2 separate regions of the Homo sapiens genome follow, and region 2 is linked to region 1. The links come from fine-mapping of genetic effects on gene expression. Tissue or cell type: thyroid. Region 1 holds a variant in brackets; the other region holds the start of a gene. All regions are shown on one strand. Distances are between the middles of the regions. Region 1 overlaps LINC02377 (long intergenic non-protein coding RNA 2377). Region 2 holds the start of SNHG27 (small nucleolar RNA host gene 27).

Evidence for each region. PIP is the estimated chance that this variant, and not a neighbour inherited with it, causes the effect.
Region 2: it holds the start of SNHG27, and the variant in region 1 is the best candidate, but not a certain one, in a credible set for the expression of SNHG27 in thyroid (GTEx, PIP 0.78).

What each region holds. Positions count from the first base shown.
Region 1 is chr4:131,698,080-131,700,991 of GRCh38, reverse strand. The region is part of intron 4 of LINC02377 (long intergenic non-protein coding RNA 2377); the gene reads right to left. Among named protein-coding and RNA genes, the nearest start is that of SNHG27, 65 kb to the left of the region's middle. The variant G/A (reference allele first, on the strand shown) is at 1,542.
Region 2 is chr4:131,763,664-131,766,575 of GRCh38, reverse strand. SNHG27 (small nucleolar RNA host gene 27) reads right to left here and starts at 1,738. Exons shown (of 3, transcript NR_125884.1): 1 at 1,509-1,738.

The sequences.
Region 1 (2,912 bases):
GGCATCTGTGCATTTCTCTGGGATAGAATTCCCAGCGACAACCCACAGCCCCTCTGCCATTACATACAGTGGTACCACCCTTGCTGCCTGATATGGTTTGGCTCTATGTCCCCATTCAAATCTCATCCTGTAGATCCCACAATTCCCATGTTTTGTGGGAGGTACCTGGTGGGAAATGACTGAATAATGGGGATGGGTATTTCCCATGCTGTTCTCGTAATAGTGGATGGGTCTCACCAGATCTAATGATTTTAAAAACAGGAGTTTCCTGACACAAGCTCTCTCTTAGCCTGCTGCCATCCATGTAAGATGTGACTTGCTCCTACTTACCTTTCACCATGATTTTGAGGCCTCCCCAGCCACGTGGAACTGTAAGTTGATTAAACCTCCTTCTTTTGTAAATTGCCCAGTCTCAGGTCTGTCTTTATCAGCAGCATGAATATGGAATAATATAGTAAATTGGTACGAGTAGAGTGGGCTCTACTGAAAAGTGCCTGAAAATGTGGAAGCAACTTTAGAACTGGGTAACAGGCAGAGGTTGAAACAGCTTGGAGCACTCAGAAGAAGACAGGAAAATGTGGCAAAGTTTAGAACCACCTAGAGACTTGTTGAATGGCTTTGCCTAAAATGATGATAATGATACAGACAATGAAATCCAGGATGAGGTGGTCTCCAATGGAGATGAGGATCTTGGGGACTAGAACAAAGGTGACTTTTGTTATGTTTTAGCAAAGAGACTGGTGGCATTTTGCTCCAGGCCTAGAGATTTGTGGGACTTTGAACTTGAGAAAGATGATATAGGGTATCTCATGGAAGAAATTTCTAAGCAGCAAAGCATTCAAGATGTGATGTGGGTGCTGTTAAAGTCACTCAGTTTTATAAAGGAAGTAGAGCATAAAAGTTCAAAAAGTTTGCGGCTTGAAAATGTGATAGAAAAGAAAATCCCATTTTCTGAGGAGAAATTTAAGTCAGCTGCAGAAATTTGCATAAGTAATGAGGAGATGAATGTTAATCCCCAAGACAATAGGGAAAATGTCTCTAAGGCATGCCAGAGGTCTTCATGGCAGCCCCTTCCATCACAGGCCTGGTGACCTAGGAGAAAAAAAGTGGTTTTGTGGGCCAGGCCCAAGGTCATCATGCTGTGAGCAGCCTAGGGACTTGGCACCCTGCGTCCCAGCTGCTCCAGCCATGGCTGAAAGGGGCCAATGTAGACTTTAGGCTGTGGCTTCAGAGGGTACAAGCCCCAAGCCTTGGCAGCTTCCACTTGATGTTGAGCCTGTGAGTGCACAGAAGTCAAAAATGGGGGTTTGGGAATCTCTGCCTAGATTTCAGATGTATGGAAATGCCTGGATGTCCAGGAATAAGTTCACTGCAAGGGTGAGGCCCTCATAAAGAACCACTGTTTAGGGCAGTGTGGAAGGGAAATGTGGGGTTGGAGTCCCCACACAGAGTCCCTACTGGGGCACTGCCTAATGAGGCTGTGAGAAGAGGGCCACCGTCCTCCAGACCCCAGAATGGTAAATCCACTGACAGCTTGCACC[G/A]TGCACCTAGAGAAGACTAAGACACTGAATGTCACCCTGTGAAAGTAGCCATGAGGGAGGCTGTACCCTACACAGCCACGGGTGGGGAGCTACTCAAGACCTTGGGAACCCACCTCTTGCATTAGCATGACCTGGATGTGAGACATAGAGTTACTGGGAGATCATTTTGGATCTTTAAAATTTGACTGTCCCTCTGGATTTCACACTTGCATGGGGCGTGTAGCCCTGTTGTTTGGCCAATTTCTCCCATTTGGAATGGCTGTATTTACCCAATGCCTGTACCCCCATTGTATCTAGGAAGTAACTAACTTACTTTTGATTTTACAGGCTCATAAGTGGAAGGGACTTGACTTGTCTCAGATGAGACTTTGGACTGTGGACTTTTGAGTTAATGCTGAAATTAGTTAAGGCTTTGTGGGACTGTTGGGAAGGCATGATTGGTTTTGAAATGTGAAGATATGAGATTTGGGAGGGGCCAGGGGTATAATAATATGGTTTGACTCTGTGTCCCCACCCAAGTATCATCTTGTAGTTCCCATAATTTCTACATGTTGTGGGAGGGACCCAGTGGGAAATGATTGAATCATGAGAGTGAGTCTTCCCCATGCTGTTCTCATGATAGTGAATGGGTCTCATGAAATTCGATGGCTTTAAAAATGGGAGTTTCCCCAAACGAGGTCTCTCTTTGGCTGCAGTCATCCATGTAAGATGTGACTTGCTCCTCTTCTTGACTTCTGCCATGAGTTTGAGGCCTCCCCAGCCATGTAGAACTACAAATTGATTAAACCTCTTTCTTTTTTAAATTGTCCAGTGTCAGGTATGTCTTTGTCAGCAGTGTAAAAAAGGACTAAGAAACTGCCCTTGGGCTGGGGAAAGAACAAAATCCTGGTTGCTTCACTAGCACCTTCATCATGACACAGCTGCCATATAGCATAGAACCCAGTCTCTCTTCCTTGTGAGCTCCCAACTCCTATCCTTCACTAAGCAGAACTCCTTGCTTGGGCCTGCAGAGTAGCTACCTCACCCAAGCTGAACATTTCTATTGCCAGTGGCTCTGTGTTATCCTGTGATGGAGCTCCCAGAGGCAAATGACAGCCAACTGCCACTGCCCATGCAGTGGTACCTGCCCTTGCTGTCTTAGACTGGGAAAGAAATAAAAGAGCCTGAATGCTTTACTCATGCTTCCAGCACACTATGATTACCATATGATCACCATATGGCATGGAGCCCAATCTCTATTCTCTGTGAGCACTTGATCCCGTGCTCTTCACCAGGCAGGGGCCCCAGCAAAGGCTCATAGTGCAGCAGCCCCACTCCAGGCTGAAAATGCCCAGTGGCAGTGGTTCTGCATTTCTCTGGGGTGGAGATCCC
Region 2 (2,912 bases), 66 kb before region 1:
TAGTTAGATTCATAGTTGCAATGTTTCATGTGGTATATTTGCTCCCTATGGAATAGAACATAACATTAATCTCTAGATGTGTCACTAGAGAGATTTGTATATATCCACAAAAATCTACAGTTGCAACAAGAAAAATTATCCAGTGAAAATTTTGTGATATGAATGTCTTTCAACTTTTTAAAAAGTAAAGAGAAAATGATGAACAAATATGAGTTGGAAATCAGAATGAACAAATCGTGAAAATATAGTGTACCCCTTCAAAAAGTTTGAAAATTAAGAGAAATTGGTAGAACAGCTGTATTATCATTTACAAAAATGTTTCTCTACCTATAGAACAAACAATTACTTTGTCCTCTAATTTTCAAATAACTTACAGAACATTTATTTCCTACTGTCATTGGAATGGCAGGCTAGCAGGCTGAGTTCATAGCCCAATTGGTTCCTCACATCAAAAGATTCCCTTTATTATTTCCTTATTTTCTCTTTAATTCTGGCACTCCTTCATGATTGAACTTACAGATGTTCTTTTGTCTGCTAATCTTCGAGTAAGCCTGTGCTCTCTATAACTTTCAGTCTCAATTTCCTTCTACCATCAGCCTTTTGTCTAAACATTCTTATTCTGGTTTGTTTCCCTGAACTCTTGACATCAATCTCTGTTCCTTCAATATTATGTTTCTTCTACTGGAAGCAACAGATTTCCCAGATTTCACCCATTTTCCATTTTACTCTTCTCAATCTCTGTGTCTGAGTTAATTGCTTCCTTAGGTTTCTATGTAGGATTGTCTCTCCATCAGTAACTTTCCTATATCGCCCATGTTAACGTACCTATATCGTTTACTGAAAAATTTCTCCTTTAAAAAAAAATCAATGTGTTTGTTTACTTTCTTAAAATGCCCTCTTAAACTGCAAGGTCAAAGAAGGTAAGTATGATATTCGGATATTATATATCTACCACTTAATACAGAAAATATTCCAGCACTTGTATAGGTAGTATAAGACATAATTTTAGAACTCTAAAATAAAAACTCACAAATTGAAGTTAAATATCCATTTCCCACTGTTATCTCCTTTTCCTTTTAACACACTGATATCATTTGGATCTGTGTCCCCACCCAAATCTCAAGTCAAACTATAAGTCCCACTGTTGGAGGTGGGGCGTGTTGGGAGGCAATTGGATCATCTAGCGGTTTCTCTTAAATGGTTTAGCACCATCTCCTTGGTGCTGTTCTTGCGATAGTGAGTGAGTTATTGTGAGTCTGGTTGTTAAAAGTGTATAGCACCTCCCCACTTCTCACTCTTCTTCCTGCTTCCAGCCATGTGAAGTGCTGGCTCCCCCGTCACCTTCTGCCATGATTGTAAGCTTACTGAGGCCCACACCCAGGCAGCCCCAGAACCTGCTGGGTTCTGCTCTCTGCGACTACCAAGCCACCGGTGAAGAGAGCAGCCCACGGACACACAGGCAGACCTGTCCTCGACATCCCAAGAGCGCCACTTTTGGGGAGACTCACCCGCACACTGTCCGCGCACGCCTGAGGCTGGGATCCCGCGCTGTCTCCCCGGAGATCTGTCTGAGGTTTCTTCCTCCTGATGGACCCTCCGCGAATCCCGGCCTCCGGAGACCTTCCTGTTAACTGCCCTGGCCAGGACTGGTCTCAGCCCCGACTCTGACCAAGCTCACACAGGGTGCCTGCTTAGCCAAGTCTCAAGGACCCATCCCCGGGCAACGGTGGCGGTCACTGTGACCACAGCGGCGGCTCGGGCCTCGCGCATGCTCACTGGCGAGGCCGACTCACCCGCCCCACGCCCCCTTACTCCGCAGAGTCAGGCTGCAGACCCTTTAAAAAATGGCGGCGACATGGCGGCTGCGGGGACTGGGGTGGCGGTGCTGGAGGTTGCGGCGGGGACTGCGGCGCAGCCCGAGGCAGAGGGTGGGAAGAGGACTACCAGAGGGGCCTGCGGGAGACTCAGGGTCGGACCCATAGGAGTCCTGTCGTCAGGACCTCCTTGATCGGTCTCCTGCTTCTGTTCCCGGTGAAGGAGGACCTTCGGGGTGCTGGCTGGGCTGCGCGGACACCTCTTGGGATCCGATGATGGCTCCCACCGGCTGATCGGGAATGGGGTTACAATGCAGTGAGGCGGAAAGGGTCTCGCCGGGGCACGGAAAGATCCCCAAGGCCGCAAGGCGTGCTGTCGTCTGCAACGGCACTGACCCATGAGCCCACTGCCTCCCTCCTTCCTGGGTGGAGCAGGGGCCTGCCTTCATCTCCAAGGCCCGGGGGCTCCGGCATCCCGACGCAGCTTCCGGCGACATCGGCAAAGACAGAGGCGAGTCCGAGCTGGAGCCCGTGTGACCAAACGTGGCACTGACGTCCCCCAAGAGCACATGCAGAGAGCGTGTGTCTTTGAGGCCGTAGGGGGCGACGACGAGACGGACAGTGATGTCCAGGCGTGCGCCCGGGGGCCACTGGAGACCTGCCCCACAAAGCAGAGGAAAAGCCAAGCGCACCTGCAAACCTGCGAGACAGGGCCTGTGCGCGAGTCCAGGCCACATTCAGGGAGGCCCGCCAGAGGAGCCCAGAGCTTTGGACCAAGTACACCCCACCCCCACGCCGCTACCGCTTAGGTACCCCTGACGCAACCTCCCCTGCACCCAGCCAAAACCCAGTCCCGTTGGCTCCCTGACATCCGTGGCAGCCAAAAGATTCAGTGCCAGAAGGCGCTTTCCCCAGGAGCGGAGGGACCGGTTGGCCCTCAAGGATCAGACAGGAAGTGCAGGTGGGATGCAACACCGCCTTTCCTGGAAGGCCAATGTGGGGAACGGTGGGCTTGCCTCCCCCTCTTCCTGGACCGAGCGCGCAGCCATCACTTGGGCCATGGAGACCAAGAGAGCTTCCCTGTCCCACACAGGTATG